Linked DNA regions of Homo sapiens: regions 1 and 3 are each linked to region 2. Evidence: fine-mapped QTL for protein levels in blood plasma. A gene starts in region 2. Each other region holds a variant in brackets. All regions are shown on one strand. Distances are between the middles of the regions.

Region 1 (2,758 bases), 13 kb before region 2:
TTGTGACACTCGTTTATTCGATATATACTAACGTTTCCCTTTTCAAAGTATTCTATTTAGAGTTGGAAAAAACAGCATAGTATTTAAGTACTGTATTTTTCACTTCTCATCTAAGAGACCCACCAATGACCTATTAGTGTTTTATTTTTTGGTGTAGGTAACTATGTTGGTAGGAATATTTCAGTAACAAATATATACAAGGTAACTCACTGCGTTCAGATTTGTGCTTCCCTCCCTTCGACCAAAACCTGAGGACCTATTCTGTGCTAGGGCCTGAAAATACAGAAATAAAGGAACTACAGCCTTGATGCCAAGGCTCTCGTAAGCAGATTATAATATGATCTGCAGTGACAAATATTTGTGTCACCGATGAAAACATGAGCGGGAACCTCACCCAACACCATGTGACAAATACCCGAAATGGACTTCCTATTTCAACTACTTTAGAGAAACATGGTGCCCTCAGGATCACTAGGTTACTCTGGAACACTCAGCAGAAGCCAGTCATCTGTCTCTAATACTGTTAGAAATGGTCCCGAGCCCAGAATAACATGAATTGCCCCCACCCTCACTTATCCACGCAGTCCCTCGCCAGTGGCTAATGCACCACGTTTACAGACCACGTCCCCAAGCGCCAGCGCGGACGGCGGTGCGGACAGGGAGCTGTATTGACCTGCGTTCTGCGTTTCAGAGCCCGGACCGCCCTGGGACCCCTGTGGCCCTCAAGTTCCCAAGTGACCTCGTCCGGGGAGGGGACGTCTCGCTCTGACCCCGCCCTGGACGCACCCACCCACGACGCCCCCGCCCACTTCCGGCGCGCCCCCTCTTCGCCCCGCCCACTCCCCCGGCTCCGCCTAGTGACGTCTTTGCCCCGCGCCGCGCCGTCCCACCCATCTCCCTGGCCTCCGGTCCCAACTTCGCTTCTCTGCTGACCCTCTCTCGTCGCCGCTGCCGCCGCCGCAGCTGCCAAAATGTGAGTGACGCTACGCGACGCGGGCGGCTTCGGGCCCCGCAGGCGGCAGCTCGCGCTGGGACCGCCATACTGCCCAGTTGCCGCCGGCCGCCACTCGGACGCAGGCCGGGGCTGCGCGGGGATCCCGAGGCCTGGGGGTGGGCGGTGGCCCTTGGGTCGCGGGCTGCAGACGGGCCGGGCGGGTCCCGCGGCCATCGGGCGGACGCGGAAGGGGCAAGGGCGGGGCGGCGAGACGCTTCCCGGAGGAAGTGAGCTGCCCGCCCGCAGCCCGCTCCTCGCCCCTTCCCTTTCTAGTCCCCGACGTCCCTGAGAGGAATGGGGACGACAGCCCTGGTTCGGGAGCGCCCGCTCTCGGCCCGGTGCTGCGCTGGGCCCCAGAAGTTGCGAAAGAAAGGACCTCGGCCCTGTCCTGAGCCCCTGTGGGCCGAAGAGCTCCTTGCCTAGCTAGGGGCATCTGCACTGGAAAGATCACTTAACCGTGGGCCTTCGCTCTCTTAAGCGAAAGCACGTTGCAAACCCCTGCTTCCAGTGGTAAGACTCAGAGAATGCTAATGGTTAAGAATCACAAGGACTCCCTCTTCCACCTCCATTCTGCTCATTGCTCACCGTCGGAGGAAGCCCCGGGTTTCTTCCAGGAGCTGGGGACCCCCCTCGAATGTTCCTGCTGAGGCTGCTGTGCCAATAGATCACAGTGGTTAAGATCTAGAGCCAAGGTAC[A/T]CAGGACCTGATCTAAAAACAAGCTGTCCTGCAGCCAGCTGTGTTGACTCTCTAAACCTCACTTTACTCATTTGTAAAATAGGAGTAATATTCCCCTCAGAGAGTTATGAGGGTTAAAGGAGGAAAAGCATGGAAAGAGTCTAGCGCCACGGCATGGTCCTTACTTATCTACCAGATACTAAACTCCGTGAGGACGGTGATGAGATCTGTTGTAGCCCTGGTCATTGACACATGACAGATGTAAAGTGACTGTTCAAACAGCCCATCAGACTGTTGTATACCAAGGCACATGCTAGGTGCTATCTAGGATACAGAGAAGAGAGTAAGAAGACCCAGGAACCTGTGATCTATTCGAGGAGGCGGGACTTTATACCTGAAAAACCAAAGTGATACTTTCCAAGTAATGGAGCCAATAATGACTTCAGAGTCAGAGTGGTTAAGAAAGATCTGCATGGGGAGAAATAAAGCCTTTGATGAAGATTTTAAAAGATGAGTACCTTCCTGGGCCGGGCGCGGTGGCTCATGCCTGTAATCCCAGCACTTTGGGAGGCCGAGGTGGACGGATCACTTGAGGTCAGGAGTTCGAGACCAGCTTGACCAACATGGTGAAACCCCGTCTCTACTAAAAAATACAAAATTAGCCGGGCGTGGTGGCACATGCCTGTAATCCCAGCTGCTTGGGAGACTGAGGCAAGAGAATTGCTTGGACCCAGGAAGCGGAGGTTACAGTGAGCCGAGATCGCGCCATTGCACTCCAGCCCGGGCAACAGGAGCGAAACTCCGTCTCTCAAAAGAGGGGGAAAAAGAAAGAGTACCTTCCTAAAAGAGGAGGCATTTCTTCAACACACCTTTCCACTCACACCACCCACTCCCTGCATCCCAGTGTTCCTGACTCTGTTTCTGTAAATTAATCTATTTTTCCATATTGGAAAAAGGGCATTCTGTAACTGTTTGTAACTATGAAAACAGTTCCTTCCACAATGAAAAGATCAGGAAAGTACTGAGTACATTCAAGCAGATGTGTGCCTTAGAACAAGTTTCAAAAAAGGACAGTAGAGCTTACCTATC
Region 2 (2,716 bases):
ACCGCTGCCGGCAGCCCGCCCCACCCTGGGCTCCTCCCCACACCCGCTCGGGCAGCCGGGAGCCACCTACAAACTCCAGGACTCGACCCCAGAGCGCTGGCCTGAGCCGCCCCTGCTCGCCCCCAGTCCCCGCCTCTCCCTCCCTCTAATGCCCCCGCCCTCGACACCGTCGCCCCCCCGCCCCTGCCTCTCGCTCCCCACGTCTCTCGGCACCCCCGCTCCCATCCGCCCCCCCGTCCCCGCCTCTCGCCCCCATCCGTCCCCATTTCCAGCCTCCCCCTGACCCCGACTCAAGCCCCCCGACTCCGCCTCTCGCCCCTCTCTGCCCCCGCCTCTCACTCCCCTCTCCTTCCCCGCCCGCCTCTCACGTGGAGGTTGGGCCGGACCCGCCCCGCCCCACAGAGCCCGGGTCCCGCCCCCACGTGGCTGGCAGCTTCCTGGCCCTATCATTTCTGCGCTGGCTTCAGCGGCTCCGCCCCGGCGCCGTGCCAGGGGGCCGGACACTCCAGTCGCGCGGCACAGGCCTGAGGCCGCTGAGGGCCACCCCGTCCCCTGCCCGCCCGCCGGCCTGCTGGGATTGGCCGAGCGCCGGCCTCCGCCCGAGCCCGCGCGTTATGTAACGCGCCCCGGGGGCCCCGCCCCCTCGCCCTGGCTTATATAACCCGGGCGCACCGGCTCGCGCCCCGCCCCAGGGCCAATGGAGGCCTGCGGAGTCGGCCCCGACGACCAATCGCACGGCCCGGGGGCGGGACCGGTCACGCGGCGGCAGGGGGCGCGGCGCCGGCTGCTGACCGGCACGCGGCGAGCCTCGAGACTGCGCGAGGGCGGCCCCGGGGGCGAGCGGCTGTGCGCGGGGCCAAGGGCGGGGGCAGCAGGTGAGTGCGCGGCCGGGCGGGAGTTCTGGGCGGCCGGGCGGGAGTTCTGGGCACTCGCGCGCGGCAGAGGAGCCCCGCGAGCCCTGCCCTCGGTACTGGGGGCCCCCGGAGCGTGGCGCTTCCGAGCCACCCGCCTCCCCGGGCCCCATCCCTCGGCGCGCGGGAAAGTTGGGGCAGGGGTGAGGACCGCGCGGTCGGGGCGCCCCAGCCAGCCGGGCCGCTGGCGTCGGACTGTCTGTTCCATTTGTCCCTTGTCACCCTTGTCTCCTCCCCCTAGGCCGGAGTCCTGAAAGTCGAGCGAGCTCCGGGTTTTGAAAATGTTGGAGGGAAAAGCTCCTCGGAGATGAGCGTGACCCCCTGGCTCGTGGTGGCCGCCTGTTCTCACTAACGCCATGGCGGGGACCGGAGTGAGAAACCGGTGTCTGTCACTGACTGCAAAGTGAGCGAGAAGCAGGCTGCGGGCCGTCCCAGCACGACGTGGAGCCCCGCGGAGACCTCGAGATGCCCCGCGGGGAAGCTCCTGGCCCCGGGAGACGGGGGGCTAAGGACGAGGCCCTGGGCGAAGAATCGGGGGAGCGGTGGAGCCCCGAGTTCCATCTGCAGAGGAAATTGGCGGACAGCAGCCACAGGTGACGCGCTGGCTTCAGGCCGAGGGCCCCATGCGTTCGTTGTCCTTCCCTGGAGCAGGGAAAGGGGGACCTAAATCTTTTTATTCTTTTGTTTTCAAGCCCAGGGGAAAGTGTAAAGGGGAGACTCGGGCAATGTAGGATGAAGTGATCCGTGACACTGAAGAAAATTACCGAAGAGTATCAGGAGGGAAAAGTGGTTACAAAAGTTAGCTGAGTTGGGGCTCAAGTGGATTAAGGGAAAGTAAGTGGAGAATGTTTGTCATTCACCAGTTGCTTTGCCTCGAGTTCCCCACCTAGAGGAAGAGGGGTCACCACCCTGTGGACTGATGCCGGTAGAGCACTTAGAAACTTACCTGGCTTGCAGTTTGTGTTCCCTAAGCCGCAAGATGCTGTTGTCTTCAGAGGATGAAGTTGTAATTTTTTTTTATCTTCCAGTGAACAGCAAGATCGAAACAGAGTTTCTGAAGAACTTATCATGGTTGTCCAAGAAATGAAAAAATACTTCCCCTCGGAGAGACGCAATAAACCAAGCACTCTAGATGCCCTCAACTATGCTCTCCGCTGTGTCCACAGCGTTCAAGGTAAACAAGCCGGAGAGAAATTTCATCCTACGAATGCACCAGGACTCATACAAGCAGCCAGAGGAGTGGTCAGTGGGGTCTCAGTCAGACAAATAATTTGAGCTTTTTCTGGTGCTTTGTGGAAGATGAGCAAATCTACACCGATTCCATTCGTGTCTTAATTGTTCACATGTGAAAGACCAGGAAAACTTTATCTGTATAATAGTGTATAATACCTATGCAATGTTTTGCTCATGTGTTGCAAGAGAGTAGAGTTTAGCATAAGCACATTTTGAAGGCTGACCTTTTAAAGAAATATTGTCTTCTATGGAAGTTATGGGAAAAAAATGCATTCCACGAAATAGTTACCTTTACATGCCGTACACATACTTTCAAAATGCAGTAATGAGGCTGGGCGCGGTGCCTCACGCCTGTAATCCCAGCACTTTGGGAGGCCGAGGCGGGCAGATCACGAGGTCAGGAGATCGAGACCATCCTGGCTAATACGGTGAAACCCCGTCTCTACTAAAAATACAAAAAATTAGCCGGGTGTGGTGGCGGGCGCCTGTAGTCCAGCTATTCGGGAGGCTGAGACAGGAGAACGGCGTGAACCCGGGAGGCGGAGCTTGCAGTGAGCCGAGATCACGCCACT
Region 3 (2,758 bases), 21 kb after region 2:
ACTTCTTTTCCTGCCAGCACAGCTGACACCAGCTTGTTTGCTTGCTGTTGCCCATCCACGTAACAGCATCATGTGGAATGGAACGAGACCAGCCCGGCCCACAACTTCTTGTAGGCTACAGTACCCCTACCCCTAGGCCCTTGAATCTTTAGTCCTTTTTTTTTTTTTGAGACAGGATCTCAGTCTGTCACCCAGGCTGGAGTACAGTGGCCTGATCGCGGCTCACTGCAACTTCCGCCTCCTGGGTTCAAACGTTTCTCCTGCCTCAGCCTCTCCAGTAGCTGGGATTACAGGTGCACGCCACCACACCCAGCTCATTTTTGTATTTTTAATAGAGACAGGTTTCACCATGTTGGCCAGGCTGGTCTCGAACTCCTGACCTCAAATGATCCACCCACCTTGGCCTCCCAAAGTGCTGGGCTTACAGGTGTGAGCCATCACGCCCAACCCTGTGGTCCATTTTTAATTGAACTCTAGGCCTTTTGACCTGGCTCTAGGTTTCCCTCTGATGTCTATCTTTTTTAAGCATGGAAATTTTACTTGACTCCAGTATCATGCTGAGATCGAGAAGTTATGTTTTTTGGTATCTTGTTATACAGCATTGTCTACATGAACATGAACCTGAGAACAGTAGATCTACCAGTAAGACGTATTTGATCACCTGTTAATATTACAGTAGAGATGATGCCGAGCCATGGTGAGAAGAGGTCTCAAGGTTGCTCTTACCTCTTTCTACTCCAGGGTTTGGCCCCTCCGCAGAGCACGTGTAGAACTTAATGGAAGAAATGGGCTCCTGGCCGCCCTAACTCATGAGACTGATTTGTGCTAGAAAACGAATTTGATTATTAAGAAATACAGCTGCCAAGTAATTACCATTGGTATTGCTCAGAAAGGACTTTGTCCCTTCTCCCCACCCCATACCCCCCAAGTACGGAAACCTATTGGGAAATGAACATGAAATCCGATGGTTGCTTGGCATGAACGTAGGAAACTGCAGCCAGTAAGATGCCTTCATGAGGCTTCCATCTGGGGCTCGTTGATGGTCTGTGTTCCCCAGCCCCAGTCAGGGTTAAAGATACGGCCTGGATTTCTGAAGCTCTCTTTTCAGTTCTTTGATGAAATATATGTGAAATTATGCAACATATAATGAATATTCAGAATGTTTTCAGTATTTTAAAAAATTACACTGGTATTTACATCTTAACAACAAAGATTATGTGAGGGAAAGGATTTAAGGTCTAGTAGGTATTAATCTTGCTCATAAAATATTAATTATTCATTATATTTATAAAGTATAAAGCTCT[G/A]TGTAAGACAGTGTGCTGGGCCTTGAGAATGTAATGGTAATCAAAACATTCTCTTTACCATCAGGAAACCCACACTGTAATGGGAGAGACAGTAAATAAAAATGGCACTGTCATATATAACTAGAGTTTGGTAAGTGTGACAGTTGAAATGGGAAGGGGGCTGCAAGACTGTTTAGCAAGGGACCCTGCCTGTATCTCTCTCAGTCCTTCCCAGCAGCACTGCAGGCAAGCAGGTCAGGTGTCCTCAGCTCTCATTTTACAGGTAAAATCCATACTCAGTAAACTAGAGTAGCCTTCCCAGGGATCACTTCGGGAGGAGTGAAAGTGGAGACTGCAGCCAAGTTTTCTCTCTTACTCCTACTTCACTTCACATACACAGCAAAGCAATAAATACTTCATGGCATTTTTGTTGCTGTTTCATGAAGGCTGTCTCCTTATTGCCTGCAGATTAATCAGTTCTGCATTACATAGTTACTGACTTAAAATACATTTTAGTGTCTTACGCTTATAATCCCAGCACTTTGGGAGGCTGAGGCAGGAGGATCACTTGAGGCCAGGAGTTCAAGACTGGCCTGGGCAAGATAGTGAGACCCCTTCTCTACAAAAAATTTAAAAACAAAAATTAGTTGGGCATGGTGGTACGTGCCTGTAGTCCCAGCTACTTAGGAGGCTGAGGCAAGAGGGTTGCTTGAGTCCAGGTGTTCAAGGCAGTAGTGAGCCAGAATTGCACCACTGCACTCCAGGCTGGGCAGCAGAGCAAGACCCTGTCTCTTAAAAAAAAAAAAAAAAAATATATATATATATATATATATATTACATACACACACACACATACATACACAATTTAGTTTTGTAGAAATTTTCACAACTAGGAATATGTAAATCTCATAAAGCAATCTGTTCTATTTCCATTTCACTCAAAAAACAAATTCCAAATACCTCTGAAAGGTTTTCAAGCTCACAATGTGTTTATATTAGGAACCAGGTGTACTTTTATTCCCAGATCAATCAACCATGTATTTGTTCCTTTAGCAAATATGTAGTGGGTGCCTGCTATGGACCAGACACTGTTCTAGGTACTGAAGATCCAGGAGTGAACAAAGTAGACAAAATACCTCACCCCGTGGCACTTACCTGGCAGTGGGATATAGGGAGAGACAGTTACATAAAACGTATAGTGTGTCAAGTTGTGAAATAAGGTTATATATTCAGGTACTGCTTGCCACAGACATATGGTGTACCTGACGCCATGCAGATAGATATTGATCTAGATACAGTCTAGATGCTAAAGTAGAGAAAGGCGATTGGTGCAGCTGTTCCACTGTGATGGAAATGTGCAGGGTGAGTGAATAGTCCCTAGACGTGGAGATATTCCTGACTGCTTTTACGATACTGTCAGCATCCTATGATTGTCTTGATAATTTCTGCCTTTGGGAAACTGTTTCAGTTTTTAG

Which allele goes with the higher level. Positions count from the first base shown, and alleles are read on the strand shown. Strength reflects both the effect of a copy and how common the allele is.
For the plasma level of the protein whose gene starts at base 790 in region 2, A is the low allele of the variant in region 1 and T is the other (weak association).
With allele G in place of A in region 3, the plasma level of the protein whose gene starts at base 790 in region 2 is lower (weak association).

Evidence for each region. A credible set is the group of variants that fine-mapping cannot tell apart. PIP is the posterior inclusion probability: the model's chance that the variant is causal. Protein levels are from antibody-based Olink assays in UK Biobank. Linkage for the fine-mapping came from a reference panel and not from the study's own genotypes, which makes the PIPs less certain.
Region 1: its variant is the best candidate, but not a certain one, in a credible set for the plasma level of the PER3 protein (UK Biobank, PIP 0.55).
Region 3: its variant is the best candidate, but not a certain one, in a credible set for the plasma level of the PER3 protein (UK Biobank, PIP 0.53).

What each region holds. Positions count from the first base shown.
Region 1 is chr1:7,770,413-7,773,170 of GRCh38, forward strand. It overlaps VAMP3 (vesicle associated membrane protein 3), which reads left to right and starts at 884. Exons shown (of 5, transcript NM_004781.4): 1 at 884-973. The coding sequence starts at 972. RefSeq lists enhancers at 88-784, 528-577 and silencers at 811-1,053, 1,018-1,247. The variant A/T (reference allele first, on the strand shown) is at 1,691.
Region 2 is chr1:7,783,502-7,786,217 of GRCh38, forward strand. It overlaps PER3 (period circadian regulator 3), which reads left to right and starts at 790. Exons shown (of 22, transcript NM_001377275.1): 1 at 790-875; 2 at 1,153-1,504; 3 at 1,940-2,085. The coding sequence starts at 1,377. RefSeq lists a silencer at 256-865.
Region 3 is chr1:7,804,719-7,807,476 of GRCh38, forward strand. The region is part of intron 10 of PER3 (period circadian regulator 3); the gene reads left to right. Among named protein-coding and RNA genes, the nearest start is that of PER3, 22 kb to the left of the region's middle. The variant G/A (reference allele first, on the strand shown) is at 1,305.